2 linked regions of the Homo sapiens genome follow. The protein of the gene in region 2 interacts with the protein of the main gene of each other region in a pairwise test. Each region holds a gene or a part of one and is shown on either strand. Other genes may lie near its edges. The genes, in order: TMEFF2 and TRHR.

Region 1 (8,533 bases), on a different chromosome or scaffold from region 2:
TCTCTTCCAATAACAGTTCTTCCTTTTTTTTTTTTTAACTACTGGCAAGCTAGTGGCAAACATTAACTAGTTCATATTGCTTTGGCTAGATGTTTTAATAGTCTTTGGTGAGATATGTGTTTTACAAGTTTTAATGGAGAAAAATGTAAGTATTTTACCTCCTGAAACTTGGCTATTTGAGTAATGAGAAAATAGTCACTTTCCCCAGGACAGTGGTTCTCAATCATGGCTATGTGTTTCTCCAGGAAAACTTTAAAAATATATATATACCAATGCTTCTGTGTCACTTCTAGGGATTCCAAGTCTTTGAATACGAACTCTGCATCAGTATTCTTTAATTATCCAGGTGATTGTGATGTGAAATCATGACTGAGCCCCACTGCTCTAAGATGAAATAAACTTTCCTCAGCACTGAAATCACAAACTTAAACTACCAAAATTAATTAAGGGCATGGGAATCAATAAGGCATAGGGAAGCTTTTACATTATAAAATTATTTCTTTAAATCACAGCTCATTGTTTATATGTTATTTGCCATTGTAGAAAAGGGTGAAAAAATAGCAAATTTAATTACTCTCAGTTTGAAAAATTATCCAGAAATGAAGATGACGACTCTGAAACATTGTCAATATCATTTGACCTATAAATAATGTTCTAATACATTTACTACACACTGATAGATACTTTTTCATATGAATATTATACATTAAAACTAAGGCAATAATGATTTAGAACATTCTATCTATATCTATGTATCTTAAGTAGGCTAGAAATTAAGATATGAGTTATTAAGTATGAGATGTTAAGGTGTGGGGTTAGAAATTATACTGTACTTCATTATCAATAATCAACATATACTTCAATATCACATACATTTAACTTTAATTTGTACATCTTTAACTATTTTTAATTATGTGTATAAATATAAGTACACACATCTTTATGTATTTATTTATTCATACCTCCATTCACTTATTTATATAGGGGATCCCCCCAAATCCACTACCATTAAACCATACATTTTTATTTTAATCTTTAGAACAAGCCCAGGAGGCAGGTATTGTTATTACTCACATTTTACAAATGAGGAAATTGTCTACAGTCACAAAGTTACTGTGTCAGACATATTAGAAGCTTAATACATATTTGGTGAACATATGCATAAAAACAGAGAGACAGACATGTACAACAGCTCATCTTTACACTGAGTAAAAGCTTTTAACCTGTCTCAGAAACCTCTCTGTGAAAACTGAGCAAAAATCGAGGTATCCTTTCATTTGTCATATAGGTATAGGTGGTACCTTACTTCTCCAACAAGGATGAATATTGAAATGTGGATCCCAAGGCCCAACTCCAGATTTTCTGAATCCCTGATAGTGGGACTTGGAATTTGTCTATTGTTTCAAAGTTTCTCAAGGAATTCATATGATCAACCAGGTTCAGAAATCACTGGATCTTATTGCCGAAGTTTGAGAATTAAAGTTTGGGCCTTACTGCGGCTCCACAGAAAGGGCAAATGAAGTATCATGGACAGAACTGATACGTTCCCAGTTAGTTTCCCCTCTCAGAAGCTAACAGGCAGCAATACAGCAGAAATTAGTGACTTATGTCTTGTGCTCTGAAGTCAGGCAGAATTTCACAGAGTCCCAGCAGTGTCACTGACGAGATTTGTTTCTTGGGGCAAGTTGCCTGATGCTTTCAAAGCCATATTCCTTTTATATAAAATGAGATAATATTCTTTGTCTCATAGGGGTGTTTTAAAGATTAAATAAAAATAACATGTTCTATCCTACATGGCACAATGCCTGACACCTAAGAAGCAAAGGATACATCTTACCTTTATTGAAGCAATCAGAAAGTATGAAATCATGAAGGAGATAAGAGTTCTGATTGGCAGTGTATCTTATTTTCCCAGGTTCATTTATTTATCTTAAACTATTCTTGTTGGAGAATAACTCCCAAGCCCCCTACTTAAGCTGTGAGTAATCTCACACTTTATAATGATGTTCTTTCCATGAGAAAAAAAAATGTTCTTAAGTTTTCTGGAGAAAATATATCTGCACTATTTCTACTGAAAAATCTAACAACTGGACTCTGCTCCTCTGCATCAATTCTAGAGTGTATATGCCACAAATAAAGTGTTCTAGCTCAAGAAGATTGAAAGTAAATATGGTATAGTATTTTAAAATAAGAATTTTGCAAATACATGGTATGATTGTGTCATATTACTAGCAATCATATGATACGCAATGCAAAGTACAGTTCATAGACTTAAATTTAATTCTAATAAGTAAACTGATTTTGCCTTGCTGGGGAAAAGTTAAAGCACTAATCCAATTGCTAATGCAGTCTTGTCTACTTCTTTGGTACCTAGTGACAAGTCTAAATAATGTATATATTTTTATTTACATATTCAGTAATACAATTCTCTGCTCAATGAGTGATGTTCTTCTGCCACTTGGTGGTGCTTGCCAGTTTCAGAATTTGTTTCTTGGTGGCACTATAACACTAAGTACAGAGTAAGTGCAACAAAATTGCAGCATTCCCATTGAAAAGGCTTTGCTTCAAACTGTTTAATAATTTAAAGGACCTCTGTGGAAGCAACCGCATTTGTTAACCAGTTACAACCAGTAATTAACTCCTTTGGAGTTTTAACTTACTTTTGGCAAAACGTCTTAGGAAGAGCATATATTATTAGAAAGTATGCCAAAAATTTACTTAGCAGAAAATTCAAAAACAGTTTTCCTCTGCTAAGAGGTTCTCTAAAATTCTACTTACATAGCCAAACTCTGAAATCCTAGCAGGTCCTGTTTCATTATCATAATTACTGCATAAACACTTTTAAGGACTTTGCCTTTAGTTTCAAGCATGACTTATTTTCATAAGCCTGATTAGTTACCACACCAGCCTTGCTATGGAAAATGACATGTTCTCATTCTCTGCTGTAGAGTTGTTAAATCTTGATCTATATTTATGTTGCCTTCTCTGCTGAAAGCCTGTAGCGAAAGAAATTTCTAATTCCTTGTTTTGCAATATTAGTTGGCAGCTCTATCTAATGGGTATTCTGTTTCCTTAAAGAATTTAGCTGCTCTGTCTAGAAGCCGATTTTCTGATGCCTCCAACGTCTGGTCTAATTGATCTGTTTTAATGGAGTCTTCGTCGGTGAGGAGCGAGATGCCACCGACTAGAATGCTGGGATCTGCTGCTTAATTGCCAGGAGTGAGAGACACTGAGATTCAGAAATCTTTGGAGGTGGGAGGGGAGAGGGACAGTCTCGGACGGAGGCGGAGATGTAAGATAAAGGGATGGATTTCACACAGGAAAAAAAAAAAGATTTCGTTGAGGCACTGAGGTGCTGCACGATCACATCTCTCAAAGGAGAAGTTAAAAAGCAAGGAAGTGGGAGGAGGTTGGAGGTTAAAGTACTTAAAAGGATTACTCGGGTACAATTTGTTTTTCTGCTGGTGTCTGCAAAGGATAGATAGTCCCGTTTTCAAAGTATATGAATGCCTCTTTTAAGTGATTGGGAATGGACACTAATTGCCTGTTAAATGTTATCAAATGCTCTCCTAAATTCAGGGGACACAGAAAGAGGGGCACAAAAGGAGAATTTAAATAGAAAAAGGGAGGATCCGGAGGCTTTTGAAAGCGGGGGGAGAAGAAGGAGGAGGGATAACAGAGAGGAATAGAGAAGGAGAGCGGAGAGAAGATAAACAAAAACAAAAACAGGAATCACTGAATAATCACACACCAAAAAGAAAGCTCTTCCCTATGGGGCATCCAAAACACTGAGACTGCAATAGTGACCCCGGTCATGGAAGAAAGATGTTCCTCTCCACCCTTGTCCCCGAAAGCTCTTGGTCCCGTTACTGGCGACTAAAATTCCATTAGGCTAAAGAGTGTGTCTAACTGCCTGAAGAATGCAGCAGACGGAAGGCGGGTCCCGCTATGCCGTTTGCCCTTCCCGCTGGAGAGAATGAAAGAAACGCGCAGAGCCAGAGACTCCTGCCGAGTTAGACCTTCTCTCGTCGCCCCAGGTCACCGGCCATCCGGCAAAGACCCGAGTAAGGAACGCAGGGTCACTGCCTGGGCCAACAAATGGAGCCCGCTCTCCCCTTCCCGGACGCCGCTGCCCGGCCGATGCTCCCGGCAACCCACCCGCGGCGTATGCAGAGGAGCCTTTCTCTTTCTCTCAGACCACTTGTCCCGACCAATCTGACCTTCCAAACACATCTGACCGCACCTCCCAGGTGGACACACTAATAGGCTACGGGCTGGAGAGGAGCGGGTGATGAGGAGAGGGATTCAAACCTGCGAACGCTTGGGCTGGGTCGGAGCTGCGGGGGGCCTGGGAGGAGAGAGGGGAGAAGAGAGAAGGAAGGAGAGCGCCTGCCGGGATGGCTGAGCTGCCTCGGCGAGCAGCCTTGGGGTTGCACGCTCTTGTGGGAGATGCTGCTGTTGCTTCCAGGTCGGCAAGAGCGGTTCTAACACCATCGCCTCTCACCCTCTTTCCTGTAAATCCCTAGAGAAACGTCCCTGGCCTCTCCGCCGCGACATTCCCAGCCTGCATCCCCCTACAGCCTAGGCGGCGCGCTCCCGCACGCTGGAGCGCCGGTCGCCAGCAGGACGCCCTCTCCCGCGCCGACTCGCCCCTCTCTGCCCTGCTGCTGCTGCTCCTCTGACACCTCCGCCCCCACCATCTCCAGCTCGGAGAGACGCCACCCAGCCGCGGCCCGCACTCGCGGCCCGGGGTCACGCGCGGAAGAGGGGCGCTAGTCCGGACCCCGCCTTCGGTAGGGGGCGTCCTGGAGCGGAGAGTGAGGCGAATGGTATATGAGTGTGCGGGTAGCCCACCCTGAAGCCCGAGCTTCTCATTTGAGCCATCCCCGCCTAGCCCCACTCGGGCCAGCGCCTGGCGAGCGAGCCCATCTGTGGCTTCCGCGGCCGCCTCCTCCTTGCATCCTTGCACCTCCTCGTCGACCCCTCCCTCCCGGGACCTGCATCCTGCTCCACCAATCAGAGCCCGACTGCCTCTTCCCACGTGACCCCGGGCGGGCTGAGGACCTGCTGCTTCCCAAACGCCAGAGGGATGCGGGCGGCAGAGCTCGAGAGGCGGCTGCCGGGCTGCGGGGCGCCTTGACTCTCCCTCCACCCTGCCTCCTCGGGCTCCACTCGTCTGCCCCTGGACTCCCGTCTCCTCCTGTCCTCCGGCTTCCCAGAGCTCCCTCCTTATGGCAGCAGCTTCCCGCGTCTCCGGCGCAGCTTCTCAGCGGACGACCCTCTCGCTCCGGGGCTGAGCCCAGTCCCTGGATGTTGCTGAAACTCTCGAGATCATGCGCGGGTTTGGCTGCTGCTTCCCCGCCGGGTGCCACTGCCACCGCCGCCGCCTCTGCTGCCGCCGTCCGCGGGATGCTCAGTAGCCCGCTGCCCGGCCCCCGCGATCCTGTGTTCCTCGGAAGCCGTTTGCTGCTGCAGAGTTGCACGAACTAGTCATGGTGCTGTGGGAGTCCCCGCGGCAGTGCAGCAGCTGGACACTTTGCGAGGGCTTTTGCTGGCTGCTGCTGCTGCCCGTCATGCTACTCATCGTAGCCCGCCCGGTGAAGCTCGCTGCTTTCCCTACCTCCTTAAGTGACTGCCAAACGCCCACCGGCTGGAATTGCTCTGGTAAGTCCAGAACCCCCGTCCCCGACCCTTTAACTCCGCAGAAGAACACGCGTATCCAGCACAGACCAGCCTACCCTAGCGCGCCTCCTCAGCCCCTCACCTCCTACTGCCCTAGACCCCTAATACCACCCACCTCTATCCAGAGAAACAAGGGGAACTGTTGCAGGCCCGGGGGTGAGGGGTGGTTCTGGGATGGGCAGAAAGTGCAGGTGTAGCAGGAAACCTTTGCATGCTTGCGCTTACATTGGAGCTGCGAGGATTTTGAGAAATATTAAACGGGATGGTTTTCTGGGTTCACTGTTTTGAAAGAGCACCAATCCTAGGGGAAACACTGAAACAGAAGCTTTGTCATCATTAAAGAAAAAAGTCTTACTAGGATGAGGAAGAAATAACTTTATGAGAAAGAATGAGCGAGAAAGCAATAAATCAAATGGTGACTGCAGGGGAATCGCTGATTCCTGGCAAAGGTGCCATGAGGTCGCACTGGTCTCCCGTTGAAGACCAGGTCACACAGATTCTAGAGGAGCTGGGTTTCAATAGAATTTCTCTCTCTCTCTCTCTCTCTCTCTCTCTCTCTCTCTCTCTCTCTCTATCTATCTATCTCTCTCTCTCTCTCATTCCCTTCTCTCCTAGGCGGCAAAAGACATTGGTTTTGCAGTCCAGATATGCCCCTCTCTTTGCTTCCCTAAGCTTCAAGGTAGTACAGGGGAGTTGAGAAAAAGAACACTTTGCGGGTCTCCCAGGCCGGAGTGGGCATGACTGAGGCTGGTCAGGCTCCATGTAGGCGAGCCGAGGGCGGAACCGACTTCAGTGGGCGCTGACTCCTCCATTTCTGGACAGGCTTCTGTGGAGTGGGTCAGGCACTCTTCTTGCTCGCTCGGGTTCCTTCAGATTCTGACGGCGAACGCTTGGCAGGCTTCGCTCTGCTGAAGCTTCCTAATTAAATAGGGCCAGAGGATGGGAGTTGCTGCACTCCTAGCTGGCATAGCATTTCGGTTTGACAGCCTGTAGTATACTGGGCAGAATTGTGGTGTAATTTCCTTGGCATTTTAAACTCCGTTAACATGCCTGGGTATTGTCCCCTAGGTGTGGTCTGTTCTAGTTTTAGCAAGTGTGTATGTAATTTTTCATCTTCTGTGAATATAATTTTGCTGTAGTTAAATCTGGCTCTGAATAAAGTGTCTTTCAAAGATGTATATAAGCTGAAGTGTATGTAACTTTAGAGAGGAGGGAATGACCAACTGTAACTCAGGGTGAAAGCCTGTATAGTTCCTAGTTATTACTGATGTAAATGCCAAAAGGAAAATTATTATGCATCATTCTAATTTATCCTTTACAAAGACAAGTTGAGATATGCAACCCTATTAGATTTGGGTCAATAGATTGTTCTCTTTTTTGGCAGTTTCTAAATTTGGCATTTTAATAAAACTCAACATGTTTCTATAACTTCTTGATTCATGCGTACATGTGTGTTGTTTTTGAAAGAATAAGTTTCACTTTGCTATTGCCTAATCACTTTTTAGATGCTTTATTATGGTAATAATTATGAGCCTGCAAAAACAATTTTTGGAAATGTTGATGGCTTTGTAGTCCAACACAGACTGGTTTGCTTCATTCCTAGCCCTTGCATTGTTTTAGGAAATAACTAACTTAAATGTGAAGTTGACATTTGCAATCAAGAAATTACATATTTACCAGATATTTTAAAGGGGACTGCATAAACTAAAGAGAATAAACTGGTTTTGCAGATAGGTTGTCAAGAACTTGGCACCCCGCTTCCACCCCTGTTAACTTAGAGGTGATCAATCTTCATTTGAGCCAAACAGACCATCACAGAAAACACTGTGCCTGTTTATCTTTATTATTGAGGCTTTGTTTCCTCTTTGTCTGGATACATTTCAAATAAGGGGTTGTTTCAGTCGTTGAAGCAAAAGAACAATTAAAGATGGGGAAATGGTAAAAGGGTATTCAGAGATCATCACTAGCTCTTTTCCAAAATGTGGAGTTTTGTGGTCATAAATATTGTCCACCTAATGAGCAAAAAATAAAAATAAAAAAAAAACAGGAAGCAAATGTTAAGCTTTCATTCACCACTGTCAGTATTAACGCAAGCTTTAAAAAATAGCACTATCAGAAAAGGATACTAAAGGAGAATTGACTAGAAAAGAATTGTGGAAAATGGAAACGAATATTGATCACTTAACTAGATTTTGAGGTTATCAGTAGACAGTGACCTTGCAGTACAGCTATAGTTGTTGGATTTAAAATTTAGGACAAGTATTTTAAAGCTTCAAAGTAGTGCTTTTTTTTGTTAAAAATCTGTAAGATGTTTTAATGACTGGAGTGTTCTCTTTGAATTTGAGGTTATGATGACAGAGAAAATGATCTCTTCCTCTGTGACACCAACACCTGTAAATTTGATGGGGAATGTTTAAGAATTGGAGACACTGTGACTTGCGTCTGTCAGTTCAAGGTAAGAAGTCTTATATTTGCATCTTCTAATTCATTAATGAGACTGCAAAGCAGGAATCTTCCTTTACAGCCTATCACTTGGAAATTTATAGCTATGCAAGCTAAGAGGGAAGCTGGCACCAAGCAAAAGTACTAGCAAGAGAGCCAACTGATGTCAAGAAGACATACGCTTTTTGGAGAAATGTATATGCCAAAGTTATAAATGCTGCTGGAGGTAGAAAGCTTCAGGTTGTGCTTTTGGGATGTCAAAGGAAAATTATGTTTCTCTGACCCTTCTAGCATCACTTTAAAAGTGAATTGACTGGGGATAATAGTCAAAATAGGGGGTAAGAAGTGTGGACTTATTCTTTTGTTCTTTTTGATTGGGGCTATCATCTTTTTATCTTATTGCTATCTG
Region 2 (7,680 bases):
GACCCTAAGTCCGTACGAATGAACTCTTTCACACTTTCATTTACTATATTTGTAAAATTACATGTTTTTTTATATATATATACACATATATTTGTATATATACATACACACAAACACAAAAGTGTGCTGATAAGTATTTAACAACCATCTCTCCACAAAAAAAGAGGGGGCCCTGGCTTGTCATATTTGCTGATTTTGTAAAGTAAGTAATTCAACCATGACCAATTTTAAGCCACCAGTGTGATGGCACTGAATGCGGAGTTGGGGAGTGAGACTAATCACCTGCTCTTGCAAAGCCTGTACTCCTTGGCAGCTACACACCACTGAGTGTGTACACTTTGGGGAACCTACTGTAGCCAAATGCAGGGCTGAGGGTACCACAATGCAAGGCCCTACTCTTTGGGATGTTAGTGAGAGTGGGAAGACATGCTACCAATTATGAGGACCAAGAATTACTAAAGCACATGTGTATGCAAAGTACTGTGGAAATATAGGAAGAACACCTAACATATATGTAGTTAGGAATGCAGCTATATAAATCTACCTGAGAAATTCAGTGAAGGCTTGATGAGGTGGCTGGGCATCATTTGATTTATGACTTGAAAAATAATTGGGAGTTTGCAAGATGAACAGTGTTCCAGCTTAGGGAACGCAGCATGTTCAGAGAACTACAAATAATTCAGAATTGCTGGAGCGTAATATGTAAGTTGGGAGAGCCACGTGAGAGGAAGCCGAAAATGTAGGAAAGGGACAAGCTCTTACTTGTGACGCTAAGGAGTTAAAATTCCAGTGCTCAGGGGAGTGTAAAAATTATGCAAATAGTATCTCTGTGTTAGAGAGATCCTTTAGTGAGCAATGTGCAGAATGATTTGGAGGAGAGTGCCATGGGAGCCAGAGAGGCTGGTAAGGTGTGCAGTGAAATAGGGCAGTGAGAGGCAGTGAACCAGGGCAGCAGCGGTGCGAGTGGAGAAGTAGGTCAGCAGGAGAATAATGAGCTGGAATCACTAGGATGTGGCTATTGCTTAGCTATGGGGGGCGGGGGGATAACAGGAGAAAAAGGCACTTAGAAGGACCCCCAGGTTTCTGGTTTGGGAATCTAACACAGGAAAGAAAGAAAGAGGTAGAAGTTTATAAGGCAAAATAATGTGTTTTGCTTTAGACCTATTGGATTTGGTGTAATTATGTGATGTCCAAAAAGCAATTGTATGTATGGGTCAGGAGATGTCTTTTCTGAAGCTACACACTGAAGACTCAGGTGAAAGTTGTAAGCATGGGCGTAGAAGAAAGTATGTAGAATGACAAGGGACAGGATGGGGAGGAGAGGCGGGAATTAGGTGTAGCAGGACCACAATCTGGCTCAGACTTCCTTCTCTAGACGCTTCCCTTCCATAGCTTGCTTCAACAATACCAGATTATTCCCTCCCTGAACGTGCCCAGTCTTCTCCCATCTACTTCCCCCTTTCTGTTGAACTTTCCTTCTTTTTTCTCTGACTTTATAGCTGCTTGTAGACATTCATCACACCTTTATAGGTCCAGTTCAAATACCATGTACTCCAAAAGCCTCCCCCCATTTTCTTTCTCCTCTCATTGATGCCACGTTCTCTCTCATAGAATGTAGTGGTATGCTCAGAATTGTTTGTGTACATGGCCCATATTAAGCTCCTTGAAGACAAAGAGTTTGTCTTTATATATCCCTGTAGCCTCTATACCTAGGATAGTGCTAGGGGCTTTTTGGATGTGAATGAATGTTTAATTAAATTAGGGGACATATTGAATAAGAATGACCTACTGCAAAATTTTGCTTAACACTGACCCAGCTCGAGCATTATAACTTTTGCTTTTTACCCCAACTCATTAAAAAAAAAAACCTAAAGGAGACTAAGAACATACTTACCAATCAGACTTCATCTGTCTGGAACTTGGAGTATCTGTGTGCATGTTGAAGAATTAATGAGAGACTATGTAAAGAAGTATAAAGTAGTTTGTCATCTTCAAGTTTAGCTGATTTTATGATGTTTCTTGTGTGATCAGATTGAATTCTATAGGAGCATAGGTCTTTCTTTTTTGTAGGCATATGGAATAATTTATTTTTATCTGCTAGTGAAATTATTGCTCAATTATTCATAAAGACACATTGTTTATTCCTAATTTTATATTTGCAACATGCAAATATAAAATTAGGAATAAACAATGTGTACTTATCTAAAAGCACACAAAACACACAACTTTAGGAGATTATTAGTCAACTTATAGGATATGTACAAAATCTTTTCTTATACAGGATGTGAATCAGAAAATAGAAAACTATTCTTTAATAAAAATAAAATGGCACACTTAGCTGTGAGCTGTCACAAAAATTACACATTTTTCTCCTGAACTTAGAGATATTTACACTATTAAGTATATAGTTGAACCCAGACATTGGAATAAATAATACAATTAAAAATGAAAGATAAGCTGGGCGCAGCAGTGTGCACCTGTAGTCCCAGCTACTTGGGAGACTGAAGCAGGATGATTTCTTGAACTCAAGAGGTAGAAGTTGCAGTAAGCTATGATTGCACCACTGCACACCAGCCTGCATGACAGAGCAAGGCCTCCATCTCTAAAAAAATTTTGAAAAATGAAAAAAAAAAAATGAAAGATGAGCCTGTAGCCTCAGTACTCTCAGGAAACCTCTAATTTAGGCCTAATGCTGAAGAGTTTAATACCATTAATTTGCCTTGTGAGCTTAACCATTGATTAAGCTACCTGGGGAGAAGAATGAGTCTGTTGAGTAAAGGTTCTCTTAGATGTAGGTGGAGCTGGCAGCTGCTTACGTTTACAATTTATGAGATTTTATGGTCCCAAATGCCAGGCCTACTGCCTGACATTCCAACATTGTGCCTCCTTTCCTATGTGTCTTACAGGTTTTACGTAGCCTCTCATGAATTCTTCAAAATGCAAACTAATACCCCAAGTTCCAGACAGGTGAAGGCTGGTCGGTAACTATCTTCTTAGTCTTTTTTTTTTTTTTTTAAATGAGTTGGAGGGAAAGCAAAAGTTCTAAAGGTAGAGCTGGGTCAACACTAAGTAAAATTTTGCAGTAGGTCATTATTGTTCAATATCTTCCCCAAATTTAATTAAACATTCATTCATACCCCAAAACATGTATTCTTTAAAAAGTAAATAGGCCGGGCATGGTGGCTCATGCCTGTAATCCCAGCACTTTGGGAGGCCAAGGCTGGCGGATCGTGAGGTCAGGAGATCGAGACTATCCTGGCCAACGTGGTGAAACCCCGTCTCTCCTAAAAAAACAAAAATTAGCTGGCCATGGTGGTGCATGCCTGTAATCCCAGCTACTCGGGAGGCTGAGGCAGGAGAATTGCTTGAACACGGGAGTCGGAGGTTGCAGTGAGCCGAGATCGCACCACTGCACTCCAGCCTGGTGACAGGGTGAGACTCTGTCTCAAAAAAAAAAAAAAAAAAAAAAAAGTAAATAGCACTAGAGGTAGGAGTTGGAGTGAGGCAGGGGAGAAGACGGAAGACACATGGAAGCCAGTTCTTTATCTGAGTGTCTTCATTTTCCATGAGCATTGTATGACTGAGGAGAGCTTAAGAGAGGGTCAGGAGGGTGCCCAGCGAGGTGGGGATCACTGAGACACATGGGAGAGAGGGAAGAGTAGGTGGCTGGACAGGTGGGAGGAAAGCAGATCTGAATTTTTTCTGATATATCTCATATGACTTCAGCAATAGCACTATGAGGTCATTATTTTTCCTGTTTTATTGATGAGAAAACTGAGGCTCAGAGAAACAAACTTAATCCTGATCACTTTCTTTTGCTTTGCCTTGTGCTTTCTCTTTGAGAATATTATTTCCAAAATTGTATGTGGAAAACCAGGAAGCCAAAACTACATATACATTTGACTATAATTGTGTTTAAAAAAAAAAAAGATCCAGTGAAAACATAAGAAAAGCGGTATAACAAAATGATGATGATTTTGGTCTTTGAGAGGTGGGGTCAGGAGGTAAGAGATGGCTTTTGCCTATTCCTAGTTTTCTATATTTTCCATAATACACATGACTGCTTTTATAGCATCATTGTCATTATCACCAATAACAGCAAAAGGCGTGCATTACTTTAAAAAGGAAAGTTGTGCCGGGTGCGGTGGCTCAAGCCTGTAATCCCAGTACTTTGGAAGGCCGAGACTAGCGTATCACCTGAGGTCAGGAGTTCAAGACCAGTCTGGCCAACATGGTGAAACCCTGTCTCTACTAAAAATAGAAAAAAATTAGCCAGGTGTGTTGGCGCACACCTGTAATCCCAGCTACTCAGGGGGCTGAGGCAGAAGAATCTCTAGAATCCTGGGGGCAGAGGTTGCAGTGAGCTGAGATACTGCCACTGCATTCCAGCCTGGGCTACAGAGGGAGACTCTATCTCAAAAATAAATAAATAAATAAATAAAATAAAAATAAATAAATAAATAATAAATAAAAAGGAAAGTTGTTTCTGTTTCTTGGGCTACCAATATTCCTTCTAGATGTTTAATAGTTTCATGGAAACAAAGACCGATATTTTTAAGGCTTGATGAGTCAAGTGAATTCCATAGTAAAAATTCTGCCATTACTCTTAGAGCTTCTATTAAGACTATGTTACATGGTTTCTCTACTTGTTATTGTGTAAGAATTAAGAAAAAAATTATTGAAGCAACTCCATTGATAATAAAACTGGTAGCCTGTTTTATAAATCTATAAAATATTCTGCATATTTCTGCATCCTGTAGAAAGTACATATTTGAATTGAATGTATTTATTGATATTACATTTTACTAAGATGTTCAGGTGTTTCTGTGCTTTCAAAATACCAAAAATCCAATCAATTACATAGAAATACACAGTCAATGATAGAGATATTGTATCTACATAATGTTGAACCCCTGAATTGACTGAACTGAGGGACTCTTGAGGCATTGTGTAGATAGAGCTGAAATGAGACAAATATGATAATTTAAACAATGTCTCCTTTATATTAAAATAACAAACTATAAAAGCAATGTATTTAGTCAGATAATCCGTTTAGTTTACACAATTCCAAGCCATAAGTTTGGGTAATTTATCTTACGGAATTTACCCAACATTTAGATGTTTTCCTAAAATATAATTGAATCTCTGAATAAAAGAAAACAAAGATTTTGGCCTGGATTTTCTGCATAGAGAATGAAAGTTAAAAACAAATAAGGAAGAAACTCACATTTGTCCCTTACATGTAAATGCTCTTTTACTTCCTTTTTAAATGTTTCTCTTTTAGGCTATGCACATTTGAATTTAAGAACTTGATTAGAAAGACCTGACCCAGATGAGTATTTATTAAACTGTAAGTTAAACTTTCCTAAAAGAAAAAAATGCAGAGAAAATATTAAAATTAAAGTCCTTTGGCTATAGAAGGTGGAGGTTTGAACCTTTCAAAGGTTTAAGAAAATAACTATTTTGGAAGAAGAAAAAAGCAGGTCACTAATTTTGTACAAAACTAGCTCCCCTTCACTGTTCTCATTCCCACTGATCGGGGCACCACATTCTTCCAGACTCAGAATCCTGGGGCCATATTGAATTGTCCTTTCTTCATCCTTTATGTCTAATATGTTCACATCACACCCTTTCTTTCTTTGAAACATCTTTCTGGTATACTCTTTACTTTAAATTCTCCTGATAGAGGATCTTACTGCCTCATGCCTGTATCACTACTAACAACTTCCAAAGTGGTCTTTCTTCCACCAATCTCTCTCTCTTCAAATCTGCCTCCCCGACGGCTGTCAGATTTCTCATCCCTGAACACCATTTCATCACTGCTGCTCCCTGCTCATCACTCACATTCTTTGTTGCCTCTGCATTAAGTGCAAATTCCTTTCTTTGCCTGATTGTCTGGATCCTCCACAGCCTTCTCTGTCTCTCTGTCTCTTTCTCTTCTTTCACTTTCACACATCAATCCAGTCTTACTTTTTACCACTCCCACAAATACATCATTCATTTCAGACAACTAAGTCGCTCCATCACATAAGTCCCACTCTATGTGCCCCTTCTTGGCCCCTCTCCAAACCCATGCCATTCTCATCCCAGCCACTATGTCTTGTCCTTTATGCATGGAATACTGTCCTTCTTGACTTTTACTTTTCAAATTATCTTCATCCTTCCAGAGCCATCTCAAATGCCACCTCTTCCATAAAGACTTCTCTGATCCCTGTAGCCCAGTAATTTTCCTTCTTTTCTCTGAACTCACATCCCATCTATAATCAGGGTTGAATTACAAGACACACTACTTAAATACACTCCTATTGGCTTATGTGTCACTCCATGTTTCTCAATTAGGGTGTTATTGGTATTTGCAACAAGGGAACTTCATTCCTTATTCTTGGAGGCTAACTGACAGTGGTGTTAATGTGACAACCCCAAATGCTCAGAATGTATTTCCAAATGCTCTAATTATTTAAAAAAACTCCTTAAAGAAGTTACCACGTCATATACACATTTGTTCAACAAGTAATCTTTGTTAAAGCAGTGAATGTGTATTTTTAAGGAAAAACCTGTAGTTCCCTCACAGTTGCCAAAATATTTTTAAAAATTGAGAAGGAGCCAGTTAATACTCAGTTGTTAATCACCACTCCAATTTAGGCATTTTTCATGAGGTATTTCATGGATCCTTACACTGATCTTGGATATTGCTATTTATCTCATTTAACAGATGACAAAACTAAGGCTCACAGAGTTCTGCTTATCCAAGTTTATAGAGTTTGAATGGAATCCTGGCATTTAAGCCCAAGGTTGTTTGGAGCCAAGTCTTTGGCTTTTTCTTCTATCATACAGCCTCTGTAAGGACAGCTTATCGGTAACAGCTTTGAAATAAGACTGTGAACATGTAACATAATTAGCAAATTAAAGCATATTAATGCTGATAGGTACTAATGACTGTAATGGAAAGAAAGGACATTAGACAAGACAAACAAGTTTTAAAAATGTATAGCAGGAATGCAAATTGGAGTCTAATGAATGAATTTACTCCCTGATCTTCCTTGCTGCAGACATTAACCCATGTTTGGTGTCTAATTGAGATGTACATATTCTTTGCTTTCTTATTATATTTGTCAATGTTTGTCTTGGAAGATAGTCAATAGATCTCTCTAAATTTCCATTAATCAAGTTTTGGGTAATAAATGGCTGAATAAGCCTTATATTAGGTATCACTACTAGATCCAAGGCAAAAGAAATCTAAGAGCTGACAATAGTTGTTTAGGTCTTTCTTCTGTCATCTAGTTATCTTTAATAATAAGTATTATATAAACCAAGTATTACAGCACCATTTAAAATGCAGTATATGTTTCCTTTAAGTTATGGCTCATTATTCATTTCATGCATATCTAAAACACTTAAATTTTTTAGCAGTTTATTTTGCTGTGTCCAGTTACGATGCATATATCAGCTGGAGTTTATGAAGTAACAGTGTGAATGATTATATGTATACTTTTTTACAAAGTACACTCAGTTTCTAGCTATGTACACAGAACTATATTCCTTTCAAGAAATATGAGAAAATTCAACCCATTTAAAAGTATCAGCATGTTGATTTCAAGTTTAGATTTCTTTTTTCAGCTATGAGAATAAATATTTATCATCTGTTCATTATGTTTAACAAAGAAGGAAAAGAAACTTCAA

What was found.
Region 1: the proteins of TRHR (region 2) and TMEFF2 interact in binary tests that used the Homo sapiens proteins (3 or more experiments, as listed by UniProt).

Annotation. Positions count from the first base shown.
Region 1 is NC_000002.12:192,191,484-192,200,016, reverse strand, and holds the start of TMEFF2 (tomoregulin-2 isoform 1 precursor), read left to right. Parts: upstream 1-5,083; 5' UTR 5,084-5,492; coding exon 5,493-5,664; intron 5,665-8,027; coding exon 8,028-8,137; intron 8,138-8,533. UniProt on the Homo sapiens protein: May be a survival factor for hippocampal and mesencephalic neurons. The shedded form up-regulates cancer cell proliferation, probably by promoting ERK1/2 phosphorylation.
Region 2 is NC_000008.11:109,089,192-109,096,871, reverse strand, and holds part of TRHR (thyrotropin-releasing hormone receptor), read right to left. Parts: intron 1-7,680. UniProt on the Homo sapiens protein: Receptor for thyrotropin-releasing hormone (TRH). Upon ligand binding, this G-protein-coupled receptor triggers activation of the phosphatidylinositol (IP3)-calcium-protein kinase C (PKC) pathway.